5 separate regions of the Homo sapiens genome follow, and regions 2, 3, 4 and 5 are each linked to region 1. Evidence: fine-mapped expression QTL. A gene starts in region 1. Each other region holds a variant in brackets. All regions are shown on one strand. Distances are between the middles of the regions. Region 1 holds the start of POLR2E (RNA polymerase II, I and III subunit E). Region 2 holds the start of ARHGAP45 (Rho GTPase activating protein 45). Region 3 overlaps BSG (basigin (Ok blood group)). Region 4 overlaps CSNK1G2 (casein kinase 1 gamma 2). Region 5 overlaps ARID3A (AT-rich interaction domain 3A).

Region 1 (5,000 bases):
GACCTACACGCCTCCACCCTCCCACCCCTCTTTTCACTGCTCACAGGGACAGCTTTGTTCCCTTTCTCCCTCTTTTTCTCGCCCTGTGGCACCCTCCCCGCTCTGTGCTTGCCCCTACCGTAGTTGGAGCCACCCCAACCTGTGGCAAGTTTGCCTTCCCACTCCCTCCCTGGTCTCTTGCTTCTGCCCTGGCTCCCAACAGTCATTTCCCAACACAGCAGCTCCAGACATTTTACCCTGACCAGCAAGGCTTCATGGGACCTGCCCCACCTTGCCCTCTGACCCCCTCCTGCCCCTTCCCTGCCAGGAACACTCCAGGTGAGGCACAGCCCCAGAGCCTCTATCCTGGCTGTGCTGTCTGCCTGATACAGCTATCCCCAGGCAACCCCAGGTTTCCTCCCTCTCCTCTTCTGGTTTTTGTTTGTTTTCTGTTTGTTTGGAGACAGTGTCTTGCTCTGTCGCCCAGGCTAGAGTGCAGTGGCGCAATCACAGCTCACTGCAGCCTCAACCGCTGGGCTCAGGCGATCCTAGATCTTCCCACCTCAGCCTCCCGAGTAACTGGGACTACAGGTGCGCCCACCACGCCCAGCTAATTTTTAAATTTTTTTGTAGAAATGGGGTCTTCCTGGCCGGGTGCGGTGGCTCACGCCTGTAATCTCAGCACTTCGGAAGGCCGAGGCAAGCAGATGATCTGAGGTCAGAAGTTCAAGACCAGCCTGGCTAACATGGTGAAACCCCATCTCTACCAAAAATACAAAAAAATTAGCCAGGTGTGGTGGCTCACGCCTGTAATCCCAGCTACTCGGGAGGCCAAGGCAGGAGAATCCTTTAAACCCAGGAGGCGGAGGCTGCAGTGAGCTGAGATTATGCCACTGTACTCCAGCCTGGGCAACAGAGCGAGACTCGGTCTCAAAAAACAACAACAACAACAAAAAAGAAATGGGGTCTTCCTATGTTGCCTAGGCTTGTCTCAAACTCCTGGCCTCAAGGTGAGAAAGAAAAGTTAGGTAGTTAGATAAGAAAGCCTGCACAGACCGGGCGGGGTGGCTCACACCTGTAATCCCAGCACTTTGGGAGGCCGAGGCGGGCGGATCATGAGGGCAGGAGATGGAGACCATCCTGGCTAACACGGTGAAACCCCGTCTCTACTAAAAATACAAAAAATTAGCCGGGCGTGGTGGCAGGTGCCTGTAGTCCCAGCTACTCGGGAGGCTGAGGCAGAAGAATGGCGTGAACCCGGGAGGTGGAGCTTGCAGTGAGCCGAGATCCTGCCACTGCACTCCAGCCTGGGGGACAGAGCGAGATTCCGTGTCAGGAAAAAAAAAAAAAGTAGCCCCTGACAGCCCCCCAAAAAGAATCTCAAATATCAGTGTAAAAAAGTCCGTGACTTACAACTAAAAATTACAAAACTACAACAAAGGGATCCTCCCCTCTCAGCTTCCCAAAGTGCTGGGATTACAGGTGTGAGCTATCGCGCCCAATGGGATTTTTTTTTTTTTTTCTCGATGGAGTCTTGCTCTGTCACCCAGGCTGGAGTGCAGTGGTGCGATCTCGGCTCACTGCAACCTCCGCCTCCCGGGTTCAAGTGATTCTCCTGCCTCAGCCTCCCGAGTAACTGGGAGTACAGGCACCCACCACCAAACCTGGCTAATTTTTGTATTTTTAGTAGAGACAGGGTTTCACCATGTTGGCCAAGCTGGTCTGGAACTCCTGATCTCATGCTCTGCCTGCCTCGGCCACCCAAAGTGCTGGGATTACAGTGATGAGCCACCACTGCTAATGGGATTTTTGCTTGAATCTATCCTCACTGTATTCCCTGACCTCCCCATGTGATACTGCAGTTCTCCCATTCTCCCCATGTCACTTAGCCTCCCTGCTCTTTCTTCTTCCGTAGCTTTGTCACTTTCTAACGTTGTTATTTATTTTATTTTATTTCATTTCATTTTATTTTTGAGACAGAGTCTTGCTCTGTTGTCCAGGCTGGAGTGCAGTGGCACGATCTTGGCTCACTGAAACCTCCACCTTACAGGTTCACGAGATTCTCCTGCCTTAGCCTCCTAAGTAGCTGAGACTACAGGCACCTGCCACCTGGCCCAGCTAATTTTTTGTATTTTTAGTAGAGACGGGGTTTCACCGTGTTAGCCAGGATGGTCTTGAACTCCTGATCTCATGCTCTGCCCGCCTCAGCCTCCCAAAGTGCTGGGATTATAGGCATGAGCCACCGCGCCCGGCCACGTTATTTATTATATTTTACTAAATCCTGTCTTTATCTGAATGCAAGGGATACTTGGCCTGTTTTATTCACCATCACTGTAGGTTGCTGAGTAAATGTTGAATTAACGAATGCATCACTGAATAAGTTACTGATAGCCTGCACACAGGAAGTGTTGGGCTGGGGTTCTCCGTGAACCTGGGGAAGTGAGGAGGTTTGCAAAGACAGGAAGAGTCTGGGGTGGGGAGATACCCAGGCTAGGCTGGGGAGATACCCAGGCTAGGCTGGTGGCGCTCAGGGGAGAGGACAGAGGTGAGGGGACTTAATAAGCACCTAGAGAGATGCCTAAGACTCTCAGTTAACCGTCTAAAGTAGGGACACTTTATTGCCATTGCACAGGTAGGGAAACTGAGGCCCAAGGGAATTAACCCTGACCTGGCCAGGAGCCAATGGAGGAAACCCTGTACAGTTTGATGCACAAATATTTATAGAGTTCCCACTAGGCTCCCAGACCATCCCTAGGAGCCGAGCTGCCCCTTGACCCCATCCAGGCCTCAGTTTCCCCGCTCACACTTCGCCCCCGCCTCGTGGGATTCTAAACTGTTGCTCCAAGGTGGGAGTTGAACGGAAACTACAACTCCCGAGAGGCTGTGCGGCCAAAGACACACGAGAACTACGGAGGCGAGAGACTCGCTCAGCCAACTGCCGCTCTCGTAAGGCTCGGGCTGCCCTTGGCGCTGCCGATCCGAGACGTTGCTGCATTCAGGCATTCGCCGACGACAGACCAGCGCGGGGCGGGGTTAGGCGGAGGGGGCCTGATTCGGATTCGGCGCAGGCGCAGTCCGCGCGGGTTCTCGCGCGGAGAAGGGGTGCGAGCGGCGGCGGCGGCGGAGGCTGCCATGGACGACGAGGAGGAGACGTACCGGCTCTGGAAAATCCGCAAGACCATCATGCAGGTGAGCCGCGCCTGGTGTTGGGGGCGGGGGCGCGGGCGGCGGGTGTAGGGGCCCGAGGTGGGGTCGAGCACGGCGTCTCCTCGTACTCTCGTCGGAGCAGCAGCGATGAAGGGCCGGGCCGATACGGGAGGCCCAGAGGTCGCCGGGGATACCAGGCGCTGGACCCGACCTGAGCCGGCAGCGGGGAAGGGAGGGGGTTTCGAGACGTCTGGGTGCGGTGCTTAGGGGTGGGTGGGCGGCTTGGGCTGGTGCGGCGCGCGTGGCGGCGAGAGGAGGAGGAAGCCGCGAATGGGGACGGGGGGCGCCCCCAGACTCTGCCCTTCTCTGTGATTCAGCGTCGCTATTTGTCCTTGCGTCCTGAACCCCATGGAGTCTTCAGCATCCGAGGCTGGCAGAGTTGGTGGTTGGGAAGCAGCGGGCGAGCTGGGGCTTTCGATGGGGACGTGGAGCTCGGAACCCGTGCCTTGGGGTCTGGGGCAGATGGAGGCCACTGGGTCGAGTCCGGTTTGGAAGCCGGGCACAGGCCTGAGGACCTGCGGTTCAGGGTATTGCCTCAGCCATTGGGGCCGTTTGAGAGCTTTTGCTTTGTCTTGCTTCCCACCCTTTGCCCTTGTCCTCAGCGAAGCCCCCCGCAGCCTGATTCTTCTTTCTCCGATCCTCAAACATTGTCAGCCTGAAGTCACATCTGTTTCGGTCCCTGTCATTTTTTTTTTTTAAGAGATAGGGTTTCATTCTGTCGCCCAGGCTGCAGTGCAGTGGTGCAATCATAGCTCACTGCATCCTTGAACTGGCCTCCAGCAACCCTCCTGCCTCAGCCTCCCTAAGTACTGGGATCACGGGCGTGAGCCTCCGCGCCCCGCCTTTGTCCCTGCCTTTAGGGTAGCTCTGCAAAGTGGTTTGGAGGGCTTTGCTCCCTGCCAGGTTTCTGTGAGGCTGGGTGGACAGACGGTCTTGGTCAAGGCTGGACATCTCTGGGAGCCTCTCAGGATCATACTGGTCCCATCCTGTGGTGTGAGGCTGTGGGGGCCGGGGTGGCTGTCATGGAGCACACAGTGAGTGTTCATCCCGTTTGCTGTTCACCTCTGTCCTCTGCAGCAGCCGCAGGTCTGACTTCCGGGTCACGAGCTTTGGCCGCCTTCCTCTCTCTGCCCTGGGGTCAGCTGGTTCTTTCTCTCTGCAGCTGTGCCACGACCGTGGCTATCTGGTGACCCAGGACGAGCTTGACCAGACCCTGGAGGAGTTCAAAGCCCAATCTGGGGACAAGCCGAGTGAGGGGCGGCCGCGGCGCACGGACCTCACCGTGCTGGTGGCCCACAACGATGACCCCACCGACCAGATGTTTGTGTTCTTTCCAGGTGAGCAGCGGGTCCCGGGGGAGTTCCGGTGAAGCCACCAGAGCACCTGCCGAGGAGCCGGTCGCTAGCACCCACCCCCACTCGCCTGGTGCCCAGCATTTGTCTCTCTGCCCAGTCTGGGAGGAAAACTCCCCTCCCCTTCCTTGCTGTGGGTGATGCCGTTGATCTCTGACCCCTCTCATGCTCAGCTTCTTTCTAGTTTCCCTCTCAGTCCCCTTCTCTCTTCCTGCCAACGAGGAGAGTCACAAGGGCCTCCCCACTCACCCCCAGCCCCCCATGTCCTTTGCCCTAGTGTCCCTTGGCTCCCCCATCCTGGCCGTTGGGTGCACTTCCAGCTTCTTGGCCTGGCCCAGGAGGCCCCGTCTGGGTCAGCGCAGCCTCCTTGTGAGCTGCGGCCCCTGCCCGCCCCAGCCCATTCCTCCGCACCCCATGCCCCCTCTCCCCTGTCAGCGTCCGGTACTCGTCCCTCGAGCTTGT
Region 2 (5,796 bases), 29 kb after region 1:
TCCCCAACTAGTGCCCTGAAGGTGCAGAGGCCACTCCACCACTTGAGGTCCAGTCCTGGCTCTGCCCTGCCCTGGCTGGGTGAGCCAGGGGTCAGGGCCTCACTAGAGACTTAGTTTCGTCATCTGTAAAATGGGCGGCTGCTGGGAGCAGATCAGAGCGCCTGGCATGACCCTGGCACTGTGGTTTCTGGGAGGAGCCGGGGGCTGAAGGCAGCACATGAGGTGCCCGCCTGGGCTGCCAGGGACAAACAGGAAGCAGATGAAAATAACTCGGCAGGAAGCAGGGCTGTCAGCGGCCGCGTGGAGGAGAAAACGGAACTGCCGGCCTGCAGGCCGCTGGGTCCCAGCACCTCCGCCGCCTGATGACCCCATCCTGCCCCTCGCCATGCCTCCTGAATCTCTCTCCACCCAGACCTCAGCCAACCCCCAGTTTGCTTCATTCCAAGACACAGATCTGCCCCCATCTGTCCTGTGCTCTAACACCTTCTATGGCTCCCCATTGCCCTTCTGCCTGGCGTTGTCATGCCTTCATCCTACACCAGCGGCACCCCACACCTTGGCCCCCAAATGCATTCTCTGTTTCCGTGTTTCTGAGCCTGTGCATGGGACATTTCCTCTGCCTTTCCCTCCTAATTGCCATCAGATCCTTTAAAAAAAATAAAGTGGGCACCCTCTTGAGCCAGTGTACGCTCAGGGACTCCCCCACCAAACTCCTACACATCCCTCAGAGCCTTAGCTGTCATGGCCTCTTCCACACAGCCCTCCCTGCCATCTGAGCCTCCCTCCCTTCTGAGCCTCCCCAAGTCCCTCCCTCCATCCTCCCTTGGGTCTGGCTCTGTCTTCCACCCAGGCCTCGGTGTCCCCGTGGCTCTCACCGTCACGCAACACACACTCCTTAAGTTTCTCAAGGCCCTCAGCGAAGCGGGCCACGTCCGCCAGCAGATGGGAGATGTCCTCGACGACGTCCGGGCCGGCACCCTCGGTGGGCAGCTCGCCCGGGCTGGCGGCTGTCAGTGGGCTCCGGTGGCTCCGGCCCAGTGTCCAGGAGGCAGCACCCGACAGGGGGAAGCCAGCCGCGCTGGCGTGGCGGCTCAGGCTGGTGGGCCGCTTGAGGGTCCCTGTGGCCTTGACGCCGGAGGACCCAGCGGGCGGCTCCAGGCTTGGTCCGGGGAACACCGCGTCAGCCCCATCCTTCCTGGGCAGCTCCTTGGGCAGGTCCGAGGGGAGCTCGTTAAAGGGATTTTCCGGCCTGGACACGGCCTCAGTTTCCCCAGAAATGAAGTGGGGCTGTGGAGGGCCACCATCACCCTGACCCCACAGGGGTCAAAGGCCAGAGGTCACAGGGCCGAGATTTGGTAGTGTACCCCCCCACCTGTTACCCAACATCCTCTTCCCTAGAGCTTTCACAAACAACGGTCCTTGCCCAAACCACAGCCGGGGCGGGGCCTGCGGGGAGGCGCGGGAGGGGGGTCCCCACTTCCTGGTGGGGGTGGGGAGGGTCCTCAGCCCTTCAAGCCCCCCTCAGGCTCCTACAACGCAGGTGCTTTAAGTGAACACACTTCTGACTCTGTCTGTCCCCTAAAGGTCCATGGAACCCCAGAGCCTATGGGCAGCCCCAGGCCTTGTAGACATCCCGGACCCCCAAGCTCTGTAGACCCCCCCCCCAGCTTTGTAGACACCCCAGGCCTGGGGACACTCCCCAACCTCTGAACCTGGTGGATCCCATTAGAGGATCTGCTGCCCGGTCAACCTTCAGCCCAATGGCCAGGCCACAGCCCTCCCATCTCAACGGCCCCTAGAGCCCCCAGATTGCCTAAGCCCCCAACCTGCAGCGGCCCAAACACAACATCGTCCCAACCCGGCACCCTCCCTTCCTGCTCCCTGGGCCCCGCGGCCAGCCCTGGATGGAGTGGAGGGAGGCGGCCACCACTCCCAGGGTCCCTACCGTGAGCTGAATGCCGGGGTCCCGGCCTCTCTGCTGTGGCCCCTGCCGTCCCGCCCGGTAGGGGCTGTAGCTGGCACGAGCCCCCAGCCGCCGCCCCAGCATGAGCCCCGAGCACAGGGCGGGTCCCTGTCCCCCTGCGGCCCGGCGTCAGCTCCGGGTCTCACCCGGGCTCCACTCACCCCCGAGGGCTGCGGGCTGGGGCTTCCCGCGCGGTTCTTTTTCGAGATGGAAGGGGTTTTCATGAGCTCTCGTTTCTTCCTGGAGAACATGATGGGGCCCCGGCCGGGAGCCCGAGGGGGCGGGCTGGGGGTCTCAGCGCTGCAGCTCCCGGCGCTGGCCGCTTCGGGACCACATTGTCGCCGGCCACCCCCTCCCCAGCTGTCAGGCCCACGTGACAGGCCCGGCCGTCACTGGCGGGCCCTCCCCCCAACAGGAAAAGGCTTCGGGGAGGCGGCGACGCGGCCTCGCCCCCGACCCTTCCCGGCCTCAGCCTGCGGCTCTGCGGAGTGGGCGCGAAGGTGAGGTCGCAGGCCCCGCCCCCAGCCCCGGGCCGCGCCCCCCGCTTCCGCCTTCGGGAGCTCGGAGCCGCGCCGCTCGCGGGGTGGGACCGGGAGCCCCTGCCTGACGCTGGCGGGCACGGGGCGGCCGACTGCAGGGCGCTGACTCTCACTCCCGGACGCGAGTGGGCGTGCACAGACACGTGCACGATGACACGCAGAGACCCGGACCTCCACACG[C/G]GCTCAGACGCCACCAAGCCCCTGGAGCCTCGCCCTCAGACCCCAGACACACGCACAGGCCGAAGCTGCGCCCCTGCAGCCCCCTTTTCCCTGAAGGCAAGCCCGCTCCACCGCCTCTCCTGCAGACCCTAGGGTGTGGCCGGGCCCCAGCAGGGCCGGGCAGAGTAGGGTCCCCCCCATCACCCGCCCTGCAGCCCCGTGAAGTGGGTCAGGTCGAGGACAGGTGGGGAAACTGAGGCCCAGAACCGAAACCCTGGGGGCAAAGACGTCCAGGAAGTCAGAACAATCCAGGTTACCGGGCCCTGTCCGTCTGGGTCCCCACGTCCGTCTGGGTCCCCACGTCCACCTGGTCCTGGGCTGCCTGCACAGGGGTCCCCAAAGTGTGGTGTGGACCCCACCATCGGCAGAATATGCTGAGGACACCTGGTTACCTCTCAGCAGCCCTGTGGGCCATATCATGTTGCCCCAGACCTGCCCTTAGCTAAGGTCCCCAGCCCCGCCTCCCAAGCTGCATTCCAGTGACTCTGGACCACCGGACGTGCTGGGCAGCAGGACGCAGGCACCCGTTGCTGATAACAGCCTGAGGCGGCATTGGCCAAGAGCTGGGGCATCTGCAGGCATACAGATCCCAGCCTCCTACCTTCCCCCAACCCCCACCCCGCAGTGTGAACTCTCTCCCCCCTCCCCAAGTCTCCCTGCTGTCCCCTTCCAGAACCCCACCCCCAATCCCAAAACCCCAACCTCTTTCCTTTCCCAAACCCCATTCCCACCTACCTCGGGTGGGAGGGGCAGATCTCTGGGGCACAGGACATGAAGGCCACAGCCCCTTGCTCCAAGTCTGGCTCTCCAGGCCCAGGTCCAAGTGCAAACCCAGCCCAGCAGACCCTTGAGAACTCTTTGCCCCCGACTCATGGCGCTGAGGGCTGGGGTCAGAGGGTGAGGGTCAGCTGGATGTCGGATGGGCTTCTGGCCCGGCCCTGGCCTGTGCTCCGGGACACCGGGCTCCTGTAAGCTTCCCAGGACATTCCTGAGTCCTGACCTCATCCCCACTTTATGGCCAGGCACTTACAGGTACCGCCCTTAGGCGCCAGCCCCACATAGGCACGCAGGGACGTGGGGACAGGGACGGTGTGACCAGGCCCTTATGAGGCCCGCACTCACATCCCCAACTCCTGGGCTGGCCACAGAGGCATTTACAGCTGGGATCCGGTCAGCTGTAGGCACGCTCACACCTGTGTCCTATGAATCGCCACTTGGCCCGTATGTGCACACTCAGCTTGCAAGGGGCCAGCCATATCCAGACGCATGTGCAGGCAGCTGTGTGGACATGTGTGCAGCCTGGCTCAAGGACACACATGCACACGGTTTCACCACCACGGCTTCTCTCCAGCCTTCTCTTTATTTTCTCCAGGGCACCAGCCCCTCTGCCAGCCTGAGTCCAGGGCTCCTAGGCACTCTACCTTGCCCTTGCCATTCCCAGGGCCTCCCCGCGGCCCCGCAGGGGAGGGAGGCTCAGAGCACAGTCTCGGCAGTGCTAGGGTCATCGAGGAACTGGCTGACGCGTTTGGGGTGCTGCAGGCCTGGCGCGGGGTCCACTCCCACTCCTGCCTCCTTCTGCTCTTCGGTGTCCTCGTCCTTCCCCTGGTCCTTGGAGAAGTACAAGAATACCTAGCGGTGGGCAGCCCAGAGGGGACAAGAGGGACGGTCAGCCCACGGGCCTGGCCCCCAGCCTGCCTCCCCCAGCCCGACCCCGGCGCCGTGATCACCTCCTCCAGCATCGTCTGGCTCACGGAAAAGTCCTCCACGCCGTGCTCTGCGCCGTGCACCGCCAGCTCTCCAAAGACGCGCGCCAGGGCGCAGCGCCCTCCCGGCGGCAGCTGGAAGCGCAGGCGGCCTCCATGTGCCTCGCGCAGCTCCGCCCCAGGGAACTCGGCCGCCACGAAGGCCGCTGCCGGCTGGGACCTTGCGGCGGGCACCCGCAGGGTCAGTGTGTGACCCGCCGCGAATCTGCAGTGAGTGGGGCCAGGGCTACCGGATCGGGCCTTTCCCAGGTCCCACCTCAGCTCACCCTCCAGCCCCTAATACTCTCTGGCCCCGCCCCATACTTGTACTACCCTAGCGATCAAGTGGTCCTCCCGTCTCAGTCCCCCGCCACCCCCCGCCCGCGTAGCTGAGACCACAGGCACACACCACCATGTCCAGCTAATTTTTAAATTTTTTATAGAGATGGGGTCTCCCTAGGTTGCCCAGGTTGCTCTCGAAGCTATCACCCCACTTGACTCCTTTTTCGGACACTCCTCTTTCGCCCTTGCACTCTACCCCCGCCCACACAATAAATACCCCCGCCCCACTTTCCTATGGCCCCGCCCACTAACCAGGCCCTCCCCTAACTCCACCCATCAATCCACCCTCACCTCTCCAGGCTGCACCTACTCCAACGCACACCTGATTGTGTCTTCTAAATCCACCCAGAGCCCCCGGCTCACGCCTCCTGGTCCTGCGCCCCCAGCACACCCCAGCCTGTCTCGCCCCCTCAGTCACCCCTGCAGGACAATCTAAAGCCTTGGCCATCTCTCCAGTTGGAGCCAAACTTTCCTCACCCGGCTCTACGTCTGGCCTCTCCCCTGAGCCTACCTACGTGCCCACCCTCACCCCACACCTGCCTGGAGGCCGCGCCGGCTCACCTGCCCTTGAGATGTTGCGGGCTGCCCAGGCAGCGGAACCGCCCATTCACCATGATGGCCAGGCGCGAGCAGAGCGCTTCACACTCCTCCATGCTGTCGGGACCCGGCACCACGAGCTCCGTGAGGCCGGGGCCACCTGTGCCTGGCGCCACACTGCCTGCTTCCCCCGGCCTGGGCCACCCTTCTGGTGTGGACATCTCCCCACTCTTCCCCAGACCGTTCTGATCCCGGCGCCGCGTCCCACCTCTGTGTGTCCTTACACCCCGGGGCCTGGCGCCCTCGCCCCACTAGGGCCAGGACCCCCCATCCCCTGTGGCCTTGTGCTTTGGGGCTCTCTCTCCAGGCCTGGATCACCTTAACCACAGCCCAGGGCATCAGAGCCCGGCCCACCTATGGGAGGTGAGCATCACTGAACGGCCCTCCCGCACCA
Region 3 (5,000 bases), 520 kb after region 1:
GACGCCCCTCAGACCCCTCCCTGGGGTTTCCCTCTGGGGGTCTGCGCGGAGCTGGTCCCTAACTTCCGCCTGGATCAAGCCTGCCGACCGGTCTTTTGTTCTCACGGACCACAGGCCGCTGGCGGCAAGAGAGCCGTGAGAAGGGGCAGGTGGCGGCATGGCGTGGTCAGGCACTCACTTGAACTCCGTTTTCTGGCCGGGCAGCGCGTCCTCCTTCAGCACCACGCCCCCCTTCAGCCAGCGGTGCCCTGTGACCTCTGTGGCGCTGTCATTCAAGGAGCAGGTGAGGAGTATCTTGGAGCCAAGGTCTTCTACGGTAGTGAAGACTGTGCCGGCTGCAAGGCCCGGCGAGACGCGGTCAGCAGAGTGGAGGAGCACGGCCCGCGCTGCCTGCCTGACCCCCAGGAACCTGCGGCTCCTCCCCGGGAAGGACTGGTTTTCATCCCAAAAATACACCGTGGCCCTTACGCCCCGAGGACCGGAGGCCCAAGGGGAACTTCTGGCCACGCCTCCGGGAAGGGAAGAGCCCAGCGCCTGCTGAGGAGGCCCCTTCGGGAAGGCACCCCCTTCGGGAAGGCACCCTTCGCTGGCAGCTGGCGGGCCCTGGGCTAAGGCGCTGGGAACCCAGAGGCCCCGCCTGGCGATGTTCCTGCCCAGAGACACACGAGGCTGGGACCAGGGTGTGGGGACAGACAAGGCACCCACCCACGTCCCTGAGCAGGGACCAGGGCATCGAGCTCTTGTAGCAGCCCCAGCACAAACTGGAAATTCTTTTCTAAAAACGTAGCCAGCTGGGCGCGGTGGTGGCCGGGCGCGGAGGCTCACGCCTGTAATCCCAGCACTTTGGGAGGCCAAGGCGGGTGGATCTCGAGGTCGGGAGATCGAGACCATCCTGGCTAACACGGTGAAACCCCGTCTCTTCTAAAAATACAAAAAATTAGCTGGGCATGTTGGCTCATGCCTGTAATCCCAGCTACTCAGGAGGCTGAGGCAGAAGAATCGCTTGAACCCGGGAGGCGGAAGTTGCAGTGAGCCGAGATTGTGCCACCACACTCCACCTGGGAACAGCAAGACTCCATCTCCAGGAAAAAAAAAAAAAATAGCCACAGCACCCCCGGCCAAGGCTCCCGTGCCCTTCTCTAGGAGGCACTCAGGTGGCCCCACATCCCCCCAGCCCCAGGCTGACGGCACTCCAGCAGTGCTGGGAGCACCCCGGTTCTTCTGCCAATCCCCAACCAAGCAAATCTCTTGGTTCTTGGTTAGTTTACAATATTCCCGCTAGGAATTGAAATTTGAAAATCCCTTAGAACGAGATGCTGCGAAGGACACAGAAGGTTCTGAGACCTGCAAGCCTGGGCTGAGCTTGGAGGGCCCCTCAGGCTTGCAGTATGGACGCTCAGGGAGGGAGCCGGGCAGGCGCCCGGGGAAGCAGAAACGACGGAACGGATGGCACGAGGGTCGAGGGGAGGACGAGGACCCACCTGCTGGAGGGCAGAGCCCTGCCTGCCCCGAGCCAGGCCGCCCAGCGCTGGTGGTCAGGCGGCGAGCCCACCCCCTTCAGGTCCGGGCCCCTCCGTCCAGGCGGTGGGCCCAACGGGGCACAGCGGGACGGAGAGGGGAGGAGGCGTCTGGGTTCTACTGAGCAGGAGCCGGGAGGCGAGCGGCACAGGAGGGAAACTGAGGGAGGCGGGGAGGGAGGTGCCCGCCACTCACGTTCCAGGACTAGCACGACTGCCTGGGCGCGGACCCACTTGACCCTGGGCGCCCGGGTCAGGTGGTTGCGATCCGGGTCGTTGCTGGCCCGGCACTCGTAAGTGCCCGTGTCCTCCTCCACGAGCGTGTCGATGGAGATGGTGCTGGCCGCGTGCTGGTGGTAGGTGGCGTGGATGTGGACGCGGTCCAGCCGGGCGCCGTCCCAGAGCTGGGAGCAGGTGTCGTTGGGACCCTGCCCTTCAAACCACCACTGGATCTCGGGCACCGGGCTGCCCACGGCCTCGCAGTGCAGCTCCACACTGCCCCCCACCCACCTCTGCTGGGACAGCGGCGCCTGGACGAAGCCGGCTGTGGGGAGAGCACGCGTGGGGTCTTGTTAGTGCCTGGGGCACTTGGGAGGGCAGCTCCTGGGGAAGGCCTCGCCCACAGGACTCCCAGCCAGGGCTGGTGGAGAAGCCACTTCCTTTCAGCTTGTGGGAGAGTGATGGGGCCCGGCTGGAAACAGCATGGCATGGGAAAGACCGTGGGCGTCCCGTCCACTGCTACCTCACGGCAGCCACGGCGGCTTCTGAGGGCACAACTGTGGGACCACACGTGGTTTCAAAACACAAAACACATGAAACTGGGCAGAAGAGCCAGGAGTCCTGAGCCCCGAGGGCTGCCCAGAGCTCAGGTCCCAAGCGCACCGTCCTCTGACTTCTGCCCGATACCCTGACCCCAGAGACCCGGGTGAGCTGCTGAGAAAAACAAACCCCAAAGCCCAAAGGGGCAGGCGGCCTCTGTCCAGAAGCCCCTAGCCCGGCTCCGTTAGGACAGCCCGTGGGTGGAAAGCTCGTGTCCTCAGCAATCTCTGAGGGCGGCGACCCAGAGAGAGGCGGATTTGGGAAGCTGGGAGCCAGGCAGGGCCTCAGGGCCTCTCACCTCCAGCCACACGCCTCCCCTTCCTTCGAAATGCAAGGGAAGG[C/G]CCCCAGAGCTGCCAAGGAGCACAGCAGAATCCACACAGAACCTCACACTGTGCCTAGCACTCGCCTGCCAGGAACAGCCCAGCCCAAGGGGAAGCGTGGGGAGTGCCTCCTCCCGCCAGGACCTTGCAGCCCTCCCCACAGCACCTTCTGAGGTCAGACTCCCCAGGCACCGCTACAACACACACACACACACAAGGACACACGTCTGCAAACACACACAACACATACACACGTGCATATGCGTGCACACGGCTCCGAGGCTGCGTGGCAGTGCACAGGTCACGGCCCCCAAGGCCACGGGGACAGGAATGTTCACGTCTGAGCACCTCAGGTGAGCTCTGGGCAGGCGCAGTTGACAAGTTTTGGCAGCGCCATTTTCTTTCTCCTCTTCTTCTTTTTTTTTTTTTTGAGACAGAGTCTCACTCTGTTCAGCAGTGGTGTAATCTCAGCTCACCGCAACCTCTGCCTCCCGGGTTCAAGCAATTCTCCTGCCTCAGCCTCCCAAGTAGCTGGGATTACAGGTGCCTGCCACCACACTCAGCTAATATTTTGTATTTTTAGTAGAGACGGGGTTTCACCATTTTGGCCAGGCTGGTATTGAACCCCTGACCTCGTGATCCACCCTCTTGGGCCTCCCAAAGTGCTGGGATTACAGGCGTGAGCCACCGCGCCTGGCTGGCAGTGCCATTTTCACAAAGGGATCTCCTCCTGGTAACCTACATTTCTTGGGAGTTAAGATTTCCCAGACTGCAACACTGGCAGCTATGTGCAGAGCTGGGCGAGGTGAGTCAGGGCAGGAAGCACAGCCAGAGGCTGCCCAGCTGGCAAGCTCCTTCCTGCCCTGCAGCAGCCCCTCTCCTCATCCTCCAGACCTGCAGGGCTGGGCTCCACATCCTCCTCACCCAGGGGTGCTAGGAGAGGGCTGGCCCCTGACTCACCTCACCCCACCTCCAGGCAGGGCAGGGCACACAGGAAAGTGAGGAGGACCAGGTGGGGCCCGCAGCCGAGCTGCCCCCAGCCACCTTTCCAGGAGTCCCGGGCTCCCAGGCGCCATCTGCACCGGTCCCGGTGCTCCCGCTGGGTCCGCCAGCTTCTCAGCGGGCAGCATCGCTCCCAAAGGGACCAAAAGGCTTTGGATGGAACAACCCTGTGTCCCTCCGGATGCTGATGATGCTGGTGTCTGTGTATTGACGTGTCACTGGGGGTGGGGGGGCGTCCGGAAGAGAAAGCCTCCATAGAGGCTCCTCGGGGACAATGCAGAGCGCCCCCACCCCACGGACCACCCCATCTCGCCCGCCGCACCAGGAGCCTCCACCCATGAGCAGCAGGAGGAGGGACGGCGCCTGACCCTCGGCCACAGCCCCAGAAAGGTTAGAATTCGATTCTGGCCACATGAGACGTAACCCATGTTCTCAAGTAAAGTCACCTTCATCTAAAAACAGCCTCCGCCTCCTTGCCCAGGGCTCAGGGCCAGGCAGGCCGCGTGGTACTTGTACACAAGCAGCCCCGCAGGATAAGGCTGCCCGCCCCCACCCGCCCTCCTCCCCACCCACCCCAGTGCTCAGACAGCAGCCAGCGAGAACAGCTCTGGGAAGCAGCCTCGGGCACCTCCCCCACCCACCCCCACCGGCCGCAGCCAGGCACTCCCACTCCTCTCATCTGAGGCTCGGGGGTGAAGCCCTCCACCCTCGGGACCCAGCTAGCACACCCCGGCCCTCCGGTCCCCGACAAGCCCACAGGAGACGCGGACGGCCAACCTTGGGCACTCACCCCACCCGGCTGTGCCCCACCAACCCGCAGACGCCCCTGAAGCAAGTTTCAGGAGAGGCAAACACAGTCACGAATTCACAGAGCAAACAGCAGTGTCCACCCCACACGGGCCAAGGCTGTGTTGCCCAGACCTTGTGGTCTTCACGAGTCAGTCCCCAGCAAAAGTGGGGTTTCTCACCACACACACACACGCGCACACACGGCTACACCGCTGCACGGCGGCGCTGCCAGCACTGCAGACTCCACCTGCTTCCCAGGCTGCAGGCAGCTCTGGCCAGTAAGCCCCAGGCTAAGCTTTCTGCTCAGAAGAAACCCTTCTCAGTCTCCTGCACAAATGCACAAAAGGAACAAAACTGTGAACCACCCTACCCAGCAGGGAGAGACCAAAGGTCTTTCACCCACTTGGCTGTCCAAATTAGCTCAATGTGGGAACCTCGTGCTGTGCTTGAAACCCAGTCAGGCCTGGCTGGGTTTCCACAGGGCTGGCGGGGGCGGCTTATCTTCCGCGCTCACCTCACCCATGGGCTCCTATCTGTGTCTCCCCAGAGAGCT
Region 4 (5,796 bases), 850 kb before region 1:
GACACTGGCTGGAGGGAGGCAGGGGGACGGGTGCTGGTGGCCTCTGGGGCACGAGAAGGTGCCTTGGTGTTCGGTGGGCGGCAGCAGATTTAGGCCGGGCCAGCCCAGGAAGGCCCGTCCGTCCCAACATGGAAGGAGGCCTTGGCTGTTTCTAAGTGCACCCCCTCCTGTCTCCCAGAGGCCTCAGACAATTTTCTCTGGAAAGCGGACGGTGCTCATCTCCTGGAATCTGAGGTTTGTGAAAGAACATCTTCTTCAGATGTTGCTGTAATGTTCAAGTTCTCCAACACTGCTGAGTTCTCTTTTGCTACTTAAAAATAAACATTGATGGCCAGGCGCGGTGGCTCACGCCTGTAATCCCAGCACTTTGGGAGGCCGAGGAGGGCGGATCACGAGGTCTGGAGATCAAGACCATCCTGGCAAACACAGTGAAACCCCGTCTCTACTAAAAATACAAACAATTAGCTGGGTGTGGTGGCGGGTGCCTGTAGTCCCAGCTACTCGGGAGGCTGAGGCAGGAGAATGGTGTGAACCCGGGAGGCAGAGCTTGCAGTGAGCAGAGCTCACGCCACCACACTCCAGCCTGGGGGACAGAGCGAGACTCCGTCTCATAAATAAATATATAAATAAATATATAAATAAATAAAATAAATAAAAATAAACGTTGATTTTTGTGGCCTCGAAAGGCCAGGGCCACCTCGATGATCCTGTGGGGCTGGGGCCTACCGGTCACTCTGTGGACACTGGATGCCTCCGGCCTCTGAACTCGCTGTGGCGAAGGTCACGGGCAGCACATCCATCTGTCTGTCCCACTGGCCGTGCTCGTCACAGGGTGCAGGATCTGGCCCTGTGCCTGACAAGGCAGTGGGGACACCGGGCACATGCAGGACCCCTGGCTTTCTAGACGGCATGGGGATCAGGACAGCAGGGTCCCTGATGCCCTGCAGGCCAGAGAAGCATCGGGCCGAAGGACAGGAGAAACCAAGTCACCGGAAGAGGGGAGTGGTCGTCGCTGTGCAGAGATCCAGTCCCCAAAACCCGGCAGGGGACCCAAACAGTGCAGGTATGGATGGCCGTCTGCGGCTCCTCAAATGGTCCAACCGGGAGTGGCCCTGTGACCAGCGGTTCCACCGCTAGAAGTCCACCTGACAGAAGAATCACGCAGCCACACGGGAACCGGACACGGGTGCTCGCAGCAGCCACACGCGGATGCCATGCAAACATCTATCACAGAAATAAACACGTGGCCACCCACACGCCGGAACACGACTCAGCCACGAACAGGAGCGAGACTCGGACGCGGGCCATGGCGCGGATGCACCGAGGGTGTCACACTCAGTGAGAGACGCCAAACACACCAGGCCTCATCCCGTGTGATTCCACCCCTAGGAGGTCCCTGGAGCCCTCAGAGTCACAGAGCCAGAAAGTAGGATGGGGGTGCCAGGGGCTGGAGAGGGCACGGGAGTGAACGTTTCACGAAGACAGCGTCTCAATTTGGGAAGGTGGGAAGGTTCTGGAAAGGATGGTGTGGAAGGCTGGCTGCTGATGGGGCCAGGGCTCCCTTTGCAGGTGATGAGAACACTCTGGAATTACAGGTGGTGGCTGCACTCACAGAGGAGCCTTGACCACGGCAGGTTTGAACTGACAGGTCCACTCTGACGTGGATTTTTTCAATAAAGGTTGCCCTGAGGGCGCCAGCCTCTCCTGGCTCCTTCCCGCTCTGCCACCCGAGACAGCGAGACCCACCCTCCCTTCCTCAGCCCTCAACGTGAACACGACGAGGACAGAGGCTTCCATGAGCATTACTTCCACTGCGTGAAGAGCAAACAGGGTTTCTCTTCCTTCTGCTTTTCTCCACATGTTCTGGTCTCCAGCTTCCCTCACTGTGAGAACGCAGCACCTAACACAACACACGAGGTATGTGTGCGCGGACCACGTGTCCTCCCGAGGCCTCTGGTCACCAGCAGGCTGTCGGCAGCGGCATCTGGAGGACTCGAAAGCTATACGAGGGTATTTTGCTACATGAGGGGCTGCTGCCCTAAACCCCACCCTGCTCAAGGGTCAGCTGTACAAAAACCACTTGCGTGCACACGTTGCCGAATTTTACCAAACGTGGATTATGTTCCCAGCAAAAAAAAGTGGCTCATGCTCTAAGGACCACACCGAAATAAGGCTGGTAAGAGAACAGTGAGCTGGGTCAGTGTGACGGGATCTTTTTTTTTTTTGCGTTTTTTTTTTTTTTTTTTGAGACGGAGTCTCACTCTGTCGCCCACATGGAGTGCAATGGCGCGGTCTCAGCTCACTGTAAGCTTCGCCTCCCGGGTTCATGCCATTCTCCTCCCTCAGCCTCCCGAGTAGCTGGGAGTACAGGCGCCTGCCACCGCGCCCGGCTAATTTTTTGTCTTTTTAGTAGAGACGGGGTTTCACTGTGTTAGCCAGGATGGTCTCGATCTCCTGACCTC[G/A]TGATCCACCCGCCTCGGCCTCCCAAAGTGCTGGGATTACAGGCGTGAGCCACCACGCCCGGCCGGGATCGTTAATTTTAAGAAACGCTGTGAGCCCGGCTCTGGCCAGCACCCTGGGGATGAGAGGGGGAGGGACAGGGCCCGGGGCAGCGGCCTTCCAGAATGGCTCCCTCCGGTGCAGGATCAAGTCTGAGCCCAGGGCGGGGCCGCCCCCCGAAGCCACACCTCCTGCTCACAGGGCCAGGGTTTAACCAGCTCATCCCGGGTCCCGGCCCACGAAGCTTTCAGAGGAACCGGGGCTGTGCGCCCACAGGAAGGAGAGGCCAGTGCCCGGGCACGAGGACGAGCTGACTCATGGGGGCCCCAGGACGTCACCACACCCATTGCCCAGGGCCGCGGGCGAGGTCCAAGGGGCAGCGGAGGTCCCCGACAACTCATGGGGCAGCCACGGTCCACCCAGGGCTCAGGCAGCGAGCCCCACACAGCGCCCCTCTCCACGGCGTACAGGCCTGACCAGCGTGATGGCACAGCACGCACACACCTGTGCAGACGCCAGCGCAAACGCACACCACCCCTGCGGTCGCAAGCCCTGTCCCAGCCCACCTGCAGGCTCCAGGGCTCTGGCTGGCCTGCACGTGGCCAGGGCCCAGCTGGATCCCCCTCGGCGCACCCACCCTCAGAGGAACTCAAAGGCACACCCAGCAAGTCAGAGGCAGACACGGGCCAGTCCGTGTCCTCACGCTGGTCCCGTGCGCTGCCCTCAGGCTCCCGTCCTGGGAACTGTCCCCAGGCAGAGCCTGGGCATCAGCGCCAGCTGCCCTGCCCCAGGACCACTGGAGCAGAAGCCCGAGGGGCACAACTGCCGCGGACAGGATGAGCCCTCGCACGCCTGCCATCTTTCCTGGGGACAGAGGTCAGATGGGAAGGGGCAGAGGTCACCGCAGATTACATGAGCATCACCTGGGAAACAAGGTCCCTAAGGAGGGCGGGTCCCACCTGCAACAGGGCCTGAAGCACCACGGCCAAGGCGAGAGGACTGGCCATCAGGCCTCACAGGCAGGGACTCTGTCCACGAATCCAGACCAGGACTTGGGGTGCCTCACTCTGGAGGGTGGAAGTTTCCAGATAATTGAGGGATTACCTTTAAGCACAACTTTTTTCAAGCCTCCAAAGGCAATTACGCATCAACGAAACACCGCTGGTGACAATAAAAAAACCTCTAAGATTTTCTCTGCCTTTTAAATAGCGATAGGGCCGGGCACGGTGGCTCACGCCTGTAATCCCAGCTATGAGGGAGGCTGAAGCAGGTGGATCACCTGAGGTCAGGAGTTCAAGACCAGCTTGGCCAACATGGACAACAGAGCGAGACTCTGTCTCTAAATAAATAAATGAATAGGCCGGGCACAGTGGCTCATGCCTGTAATCCCAGCACTTTGAGAGGCCGAGGCGGGCAGATCACAAGGTCAGGAGATGGAGACCATCCTGGCTAACACAGTGAAACCCCGTCTGTACTAAAAATACAAAAATTAGCCAGGCGTGATGGCATGTACCTGTAGTCCCAGCTGCTGGAGAGGCTGAGGCAGGAGAATGGCGTGAACCCGGGAGGCGGAGCTTGCAGTGAGCCAAGATTGCGCCACTGCACTCTAGCCTGGGCAACAGAGCGAGACTCCATCTCAAAGAAAATAATAATAATAATAATAAATAAATAAATAAATAGCCGGGCGCGGTGGCTCACGCCTGTAATCCCAGCACTTTGGGAGGCCGAGGCGGGCAGATCACGAGGTCAGGAGATCGAGACCATCCTGGCTAACACGGTGAAACCCCGTCTCTACTAAAAGTACAAAAAACTAGCCAGGCGTGGTGGCGGTCGCCTGTAGTCCCAGCTACTCGGGAAGCTGAGGCAGGAGAATGGCGTGAACCCAAGAGGCGGAGCTTGCAGTGAGCTGAGATCGGGCCACTGCACTCCAGCCTGGGCAACAGTGCAAGACTCCATCTTAAAAAAAATAAATAAATAAAAAATAAATAAATAAATAAATAAACGAATAAATAGTGATGGGCCAGCCCTGGCCCGTGACCCCCGAGCCTCTTGCAGTCTTTCTTCCCGCTGCCCTCACCTGCGCCCCCTCCTCTGCGCGGCCTGAGACACAGACGTGAGGCAGCTAGCTCCCCCTGCAGGTATGGAATGGGAGTGACCTCCCCGGGATAGGCCACGGGATGCACTTCCCACCTCTCCCGGGAACATACGCGTGGCCTCCGCTCCTAGATGGAATCTGCCGTAACAAGAGTCATACCCCACGGGTCAGGCCGGCCAGACCAGAGTCTCTTGCCCCACTCCACTGGGCTGCCTGCCCCACTTGGCACCCACAGCTTCGGTCCTCACCCCATGGCCTCTCCAGGGAGGGACCCACTGCTCTACCCCAGCGTGCCCCAGAAGTTCAGCAGATGCGCATCAAGGGAGAACCAGCTTTTTTTTTTTTTTTTTTTGAGACGGAGTCTCGCTCTGTTGCCCAGGCTGGAGTGCAGTGGCGCGATCCTGGCTCACTAAAACCTCCACCTCCCGGGTTCAAGTGATTCTCCTGCCTCAGCCTCTCGAGTAGCTGGGATTATGGGCGCACGCCACCACGCCCGGCTAATTTTTGTATTTTTAGTGGAGATGGGGTTTTGCCATGTTGGCCAGACTAGTCTTGAACTCCTGACCTCAGGTGATCCGCCCACCTCGGCCTCCCAAAGTGCTGGGATGACAGGTGGGAGCCCCCGCGCCCGGCCAGAGCTGGCTGTTTTCAACATGATGTCACGCGAAACTGTCTCGGGCCTCACGGTGCAGGGAGGCCGCTGGGCCACCCAGGAGCACGCCTGAGGGTGACAGGAGGGATCCCTGGGCAGGGCTGGCAGGGGGCTGCCCCGATTCCCTGTGCAGGGGACACGTTGGGGGCTCTGAGCAAGGGGGAGATGATCCCCACACCTCAGACGCGTGCCCCGAACAGTCAGCCGCACCGGGGGCCAGGGCCGCCTGAGTGCTGCCGGGGGAGCCTGGGGCCAGCCCGGGGGTCTGAGAAGCGGCTCCCCTGTGGGCCCAGGACACAGCTCACGCTGCACCTGCAGAGGGGCCCTGGCAACCTTGCGGGCGCACAGGCTGGTGCAGGGCCCCAAGCAGCGGTGGTGGCCAGAGACTCTGGGCAGGGCGAGAAGGGGCCGCGGAGCCTGGAGGACTCAGAACCCAGCAGGGCTTCAGGACAGTGCCTGGGGGACAGCATGGGCAATGCTCCTGGGCACAGCTAGCTCACGCTGGCCACCCGGGGCATGTCCTGCTTTGTCCCATGCCCTTGCTGGTGAC
Region 5 (5,796 bases), 140 kb after region 1:
CCCGCCTCGGCCTCCCAAAGTGCTGGGATTACAGGCGTGAGCCACTAGAAATATGGAATTCTAATCCTGTGGGACCACCGTCCCATCTGCGGTCTGAGGTTGACCAAAGTGTCAACACGTGATTGTATGTCAGTAAGTTCCCCCGTTTCCAAATGAGGTCCTGTCACAGGTACTGGGAATCCAGTGCTTGAACCTGTCCTCTTCTTTTCTTTTTCTTTCTTCTTTTTTTTTTTTTTTTTTGAGATGGAGTCTCGCTCTGTCGCCCAGGCTGGAGTGCAGTGGCGCGATCTTGGCCCACTGCAAGCTCCACCTCCCGGGTTCACGCCATTCTCCTGCCTCAGCCTCTTGGAGTAGCTGGGACTACAGGCGCCCGCCACCACGCCCGGCTAATTTTTTTGTATTTTTAGTAGAGACGGAGTTTCACCATTTGGCCAGGATGGTCTCCTGACCTCGTGATCCGACTGCCTCAGTCTCCTAAAGTGCTGGGATTATGGGCATGAGCCACTGCGCCCAGCCTATTTTTTTTTTTAATTTTAATTTTTATTATTATTATTTTTAGATGGAGTCTCGCTCTGTCGCCCAGGCTGGAGTGCAATGGCGCAATCTCAGCTCGCTGCAACCTCTGTCTCCGGGGCTCAAGCAATTCTCCCCCCTCAGCCTCCTGAGTAGCTGGGATTACAGGCACCTGCCACTATGCCCAGCTAATTTTTGTATTTTTTGGGTAGAGACAGGGTTTCACTATTTGGCGAGGCTGGTCTTGAACTCCTGACCTCAAGTGATCCGCCTGCCACAGCCTCCCAAAGTCTTTTTTTTGTTTGTTTTTGGAGACAGGGTCTCACTCTGTTGCCCAGCCTGGAGTGCAGTGGCGCAATCATAGCTCACTGCAGCCTCAACCTCCTGGGCTCAAGGGATTCTCCTGCCTCAGCTGCCCAAGTGGCTGGGACCACAGGCACTCGCCATCACACCCGGCTAAGTTTTTACATTTTCTTTTGTAGAGATGGGTCTTTCTATGTTGCCCTGGCTGGTCTCGACCTCCTGGGCTCCCTCGATCCTCACGTGTTGCCTTCTCAAAGTGCTGGGGTCACAGGCGGGAGCCACCGCCCTCCACCTTTTCTTTGGGGGACACAATTTACCCTAGGACAGTGCCTGCCTGAGTTCACACAGCAAATCGCTGCAAAAATTCACCAGCATGCCTCCCGGGGCTGTCCTGAGGGTCGGACGGGAGCGCATTTGTTCCGAGAACTGGCTCTGCTTTGCAGGTGAGGAAACTGAGACACAGCGGCGAGTGCGGGACCAGAGCCTGGGGGCTGCTGGGGACTTGGCCCAGAGCCCCGCCCTGCTTCCCATCCCGGTCCTCCTGTCTCCTGCTGGCTTCCCCGCACCTGGAGCCTGGAGTCTCAGCCTCCAGCTATGAAATGAGCCACCGACCGCCTCTGCCTGCCAGGGTGGTGGCTGGGGAGGAAGAAGATCACCAGGCCCCGGAACGTCTTCCAGAGGGGAAAGAGGCTCCGTCTGGGGTACAAGGAGCCAGGAGGTCCCCCAGCGCCCCCCCCCACCCACAGGTTCGGGCGGGCAGGGTGGGGGAAAGCCGGCAGGGATAATTAGAAAGCGGAGTTCAGGCGGGGGCCAATTTGCCGAGGAGGAGCTGCGACAAATACCAGGCTGCCAATTAAGCTCGGGGGAATGTGGCTGGCTGGGCAGTGGGGAGCCTTGAAACCACCAATTAGGCCTCAGCTGGGATGATCGGTCATTAGGGCCCAGAAGGAGACCCACGCCCAGCCCCTGCTGCTGCGGGGACATCCCAGGTGCTGGGGAGGCCGGCCAAAGGCCCCATCACCCTGCAGCCGTCCTGCCCCTCTCTGGGCCTCAGTTTCCCCGTCTGTGTATTGGAGGCCCAGTGAGGCCTTCCGGGAAGGGGCTGGGGGGGCAGCCAGGAGTCCTGACCTCTGCCCTGGGTGGTCGAGGCTGCCCGAGGTCCAGCTGCCTGGTCTTTGTCTCCGCCCCAACCCGGCCAGCGCCAGACTGGCCAGCCTGCATTCCTGCGCTGATTTATGGTGGCCGGGGAGGCCCTTTCCCCTTCAGCTGCCTGAGGGGTGTGGGGCCCTCAGGTAGACCCGGCTGGCCGGGCCGGTGGGTCCCATGAGCACAGGCACGCACACATGGCCACACGCCCGGCCTCGTCCTCTGACCCCGGCCCGGCTGCCGCCCCCTCCCCTCCACGTTCTTCCTCCGAGACCCCGTCCATCACCGAGTCACGGATCTAGGAGTGTATCTGGGGTTTAGTCTGTTTTGTTCCCAGAGTCTGGAATCAGCCGAGCACACAGCAGTTGCCTAATAAATGCTCGTTACTTGAACCTTGATTTTCTCAGCTGCAAAAGTGAGCCGGGCAGGGCGGAGAGGGGGACAGGGCGGAGAGGGGGACAGGACGAGCTTGCCAGG[G/C]AAACGCCTGAGGCAGCAGGTACTGGAATGGGGAGGACTTCACCGCTGGGGCTGTCCTGGGGTGAACGCCATCCCCCACCCAAATTCACATCGGCCCAGAACCTCAGAACGAGACGTTATTTGGAAAAAGGGCCTTTGCAGACGTGATCAAATTGAGAAAAAGTCACAGTGAAGGCCGGTGGGCACTGGAGACGGTCGCACAGAGACAGAGGCCGGCCACATGTCAAGGGACTCCTGGAGCCCCCAGGAGCTGGGAGAGGCGGAAGGCTCCTCCTGCAGCCCCTGGAGGGAGCGCAGCCCTGCGGACGCCTCGATTTTGGACTCTGGGCTCCAGGACGGAGGGAGAACAGGTTTCGTTTGTTTTACGCCCGCGGTTTGAGGTCCTTCGTTACGCAGCCCCCCGGCTAAGAACCGCACGTAGAGGCCAGCACACCTTGGGCCCTTCCAGGGCGAGCGGAAGGTCCTCTCCTCTGAGATTCTGACCCGGTATTACGGGGTCTACCCTGCCTGGACCCCCCCTTCCCTGGCACAGCCCCTACAAGAAACCTCACCGCACCTCCTGCCTCAGTTTCCCCATCTCTCAAATAGAGTGTGTGAGAAAACACAGCAGCTTTACCCCAAGCACCTGGCGCCCCAGCTACCCTCACATCCCGGATGGGGAAACCGAGGCGCCAGGCAGCAATCAGCTGCCCCATGTACAGCCAGCCAAGGTTGGGGTTGGAGAGGGGAGCCATTAACTCCCAGGCCAAATGGTGGGCGAACTGGGCCGGTGGCGAGGCACGGTCAGACCCCTGTGGGGCCGGGGCACTGATGCGTGGCAGTAAAGGGAGGACCTGCGGGGGCCCCAGCTGCTGGCGGGGGAGGCGGCTCTAATGGCCGTTGCTGTGGGCAGCCAGCAACAAAGCCAGCAGTAAAGGCCGCCTGGGCTTTATGGGTCTCTGGCCCCCGGTTCCGCTCCCCTGTGGGGGGCGCCCCGCCCTGGCCAGCTGGCCGAGGCCCCAGGGATGGGAAAGCAGGGGACGGTGTCCAGGCTGCCCATGGCGGTGTCCAGGCCCCCCTTGTGGGCCAGATCCCGGGTTGAACTGCTGGGCCACAGCACACCCCATGGCAAACCCAGGCCTTGGTTCTCACCTGGGTTCTGTGGCCGAAACCCTGCCCCTCTGAAACGTCAACCAGAAAGCTCTGAAATCAGCCGCCCACCACACACCCACAGGAGCCCTAAACCCAGGCTGGAGATTGGGCAAAATCTCCGGAAACTCCCTCCCCAGGGGCTGAGGGCCGAGATAAGCGGCCCGCACTCCCCTCCACGCCGCCTGACCTCCCTGGGGCCTGCTCTGATCACGGGAGGGGTCGGGTGTGAAGTTCTGAAGGTGCCCCTCCGCTGAGACCCCCACCGCCCCCCATCAGCCCCGAGCGGCCGCCTTCGCCCCGGCTGTTCCTCCCGTCTGCGAGGCCTTCTCAGCCCCTTCCCTTCGTCTGGGTCCCCTGTGGTCATTCCCTCCCTGGAGGGGAGCCCCCCGTCCTCCCAGGACCGATATCACCTCCGCAGATGCTCTGCTCCCACCCACCTTTACCGACCACCGGCCTCACGGGGTTTCTGGCTCACGGCCCCCCTTGGACCCCCAGCCCTCGCATGGCCCCAGCTGTGTGGATTCACGCATTTGTCTCTCGTCTGTCTGCCCTGGAACATGCGGAATTCTTATCTTGTTGCCAGCATCCAAAATCGGGCACACAGCAGTTGCCTAATAAATGCATGTTAAATGAACTTGCTTTCTCAGTGCGATGCCAAGAAAATGCGGGGCCACAGGGCAGGCCTGGGGGTCTTTCCCTGAGGGGGTCCCCTCCCCTCTGTCCACTTCCTGCTGTGGGGGATGGAAGGTGTGGACCCCTAATTACCAAGGCTGGGCCCATCGTCTCCCCTTCCCAGCACCACCTGCTTCGGAGAAGGGGAAACCGAGGCACAGAGCGCGTGGAGCCAAGCCACCTCCAGGTCCCCCGGCCGCCCCTCCTGCCAGACCCTTCCCCACTCAGCAGTTGGGTGGGGTGGGGGGTTTTTCACAGACATCTGAGCATGACCCTCCCTCGGCCACAGCCTCCCAGGGCCCCCCAGCACCCTCCTGGCCCCTCCCTGCCCTCTCCTGCTCCCTCCGCCCCGGCCTTGAGCTGCCCTATTTAGGGACAGGGTCTCGCTCTGTCACTCAGGCTGGAGTGCAGTGGTGAGACCCTAGCTCACTGCAGCCTCCACCTCCCACCTCGGTCTCCTGAGCCAATGAGACCACAGGCAGGCACCACCACGCTCGGCTAATTTTTGTATTTCTATAGAGACAAGGTCTTGCTATATTGCTCAGGCTGGTCTCAAACTCCTGGCCTTAAGTGATCCTCCTGCCTCAGCCTCCCACAGCGCTGGGATTACAGGCAGGAGCCCCCAGACCCAGCCTTGGCGTCTTTCTATGTAAAACGCACAGGCCCCCACCCCAGGGCCTCCGCGGCGCTGTTCCTTCTGCCTGGAATGCAGCTCCCGGGTCCCCGCTCGGCTCCTGCCTTCCCGCCCAAACGTCGCCTTCTGACAGAGCCCCCTCCACAGCCCCCCTCAGCCTCTGACCCCTTCATTCCTCTTTGGTTTTCTTCCCAGAAGGTTGCACGCCCGAGCCCCGTTACACGGATCTGCAAGACACACTCCGTGGCTCTGGGGATGGAGGGAAGACGCTGTGGCCCCCGACCCTGACACTCCCCCGGCTCTGCACGGGGGGGGGTGTGGGAGGCCTGGGGGGGTGGGAGGTGCCGCCCCCACCTGATGAGGACCGGGCCCCTCTGGAGGGGGCACCTGTGAGGAGAGAGGGTGGCGGGGCTCGGGTGGTGGCGCCGGTGGGGGAGGGGAGGAAAAAGTGAGATAACCGCCACCCCCCAGCCCTGGAAGGGCAAACAGGAAATTCTTGTTTGTGGCGAAACGTTGATGATTTTCTCCACCCCACCTCCCAGAGAAACGACAGCTCCGAGGGGGTCAGTGGAGTCTGCTGGCGGACAGGGTGCAAGATAAGTCCCAGGGCCACCTGGGAGTGGGGAGGGGGTTCCCCGGCTGCCCGGACCACCCCTAGAACCAGGGAGTTCAGCCCCGGCTCAGGACTCCCCTCCCCAGCCCACCGGCTCTGGGAGGTGGGAGGAAGGTCAGAAAAAGACCCCAGAGGTTTGCAGAAAATCCAAGGAAAGGGTTGGCCAGGACAGAAGAGGGTGGCCGGGGCCAGCACATGCGGCCCCTCCCCCAGCAGTGCCCAAGGTCACAGGTGGGCAGTGCCCAAGGTCACAGGGGGGCTATGGTTTCCCCACTCAGTCCCCAGGCAGGCCCCACCTGGGCACTCC

What was found. PIP is the estimated chance that this variant, and not a neighbour inherited with it, causes the effect.
Region 2: its variant is fine-mapped to the expression of POLR2E in whole blood (TOPMed, PIP 0.97).
Region 3: its variant is fine-mapped to the expression of POLR2E in sigmoid colon (GTEx, PIP 0.98).
Region 4: its variant is fine-mapped to the expression of POLR2E in aorta (GTEx, PIP 0.99).
Region 5: its variant is fine-mapped to the expression of POLR2E in pancreas (GTEx, PIP 0.98).

Annotation. Positions count from the first base shown.
Region 1 is chr19:1,093,427-1,098,426 of GRCh38, reverse strand. POLR2E (RNA polymerase II, I and III subunit E) reads left to right here and starts at 3,052. Exons shown (of 8, transcript NM_002695.5): 1 at 3,052-3,168; 2 at 4,349-4,523. The coding sequence starts at 3,112. RefSeq lists enhancers at 3,019-3,108, 3,866-4,401.
Region 2 is chr19:1,063,824-1,069,619 of GRCh38, reverse strand. ABCA7 (ATP binding cassette subfamily A member 7) reads right to left here. Exons shown (of 47, transcript NM_019112.4): 44 at 5,757-5,796; 45 at 5,367-5,459; 46 at 4,449-4,689; 47 at 4,048-4,350. The coding sequence ends at 4,195. ARHGAP45 (Rho GTPase activating protein 45) reads right to left here and starts at 2,453. Exons shown (of 23, transcript NM_012292.5): 1 at 2,125-2,453; 2 at 876-1,206. The coding sequence starts at 2,214. RefSeq lists enhancers at 154-313, 2,504-3,010, 5,597-5,796 and silencers at 704-803, 1,334-1,573, 1,884-2,643, 4,484-4,533. The variant C/G (reference allele first, on the strand shown) is at 2,683.
Region 3 is chr19:574,835-579,834 of GRCh38, reverse strand. It overlaps BSG (basigin (Ok blood group)), which reads right to left. Exons shown (of 9, transcript NM_001728.4): 2 at 1,714-2,061; 3 at 179-335. Among named protein-coding and RNA genes, the nearest start is that of BSG, 4.7 kb to the right of the region's middle. The variant C/G (reference allele first, on the strand shown) is at 2,678.
Region 4 is chr19:1,944,972-1,950,767 of GRCh38, reverse strand. All of the region lies in intron 1 of CSNK1G2 (casein kinase 1 gamma 2), which reads right to left. Among named protein-coding and RNA genes, the nearest start is that of CSNK1G2-AS1, 6.7 kb to the left of the region's middle. RefSeq lists an enhancer at 3,049-3,769. The variant G/A (reference allele first, on the strand shown) is at 2,463.
Region 5 is chr19:952,872-958,667 of GRCh38, reverse strand. All of the region lies in intron 3 of ARID3A (AT-rich interaction domain 3A), which reads right to left. Among named protein-coding and RNA genes, the nearest start is that of WDR18, 29 kb to the left of the region's middle. RefSeq lists silencers at 822-1,014, 3,245-3,504, 4,710-4,918 and enhancers at 1,390-2,091, 2,794-3,495, 4,900-5,601, 5,602-5,796. The variant G/C (reference allele first, on the strand shown) is at 2,440.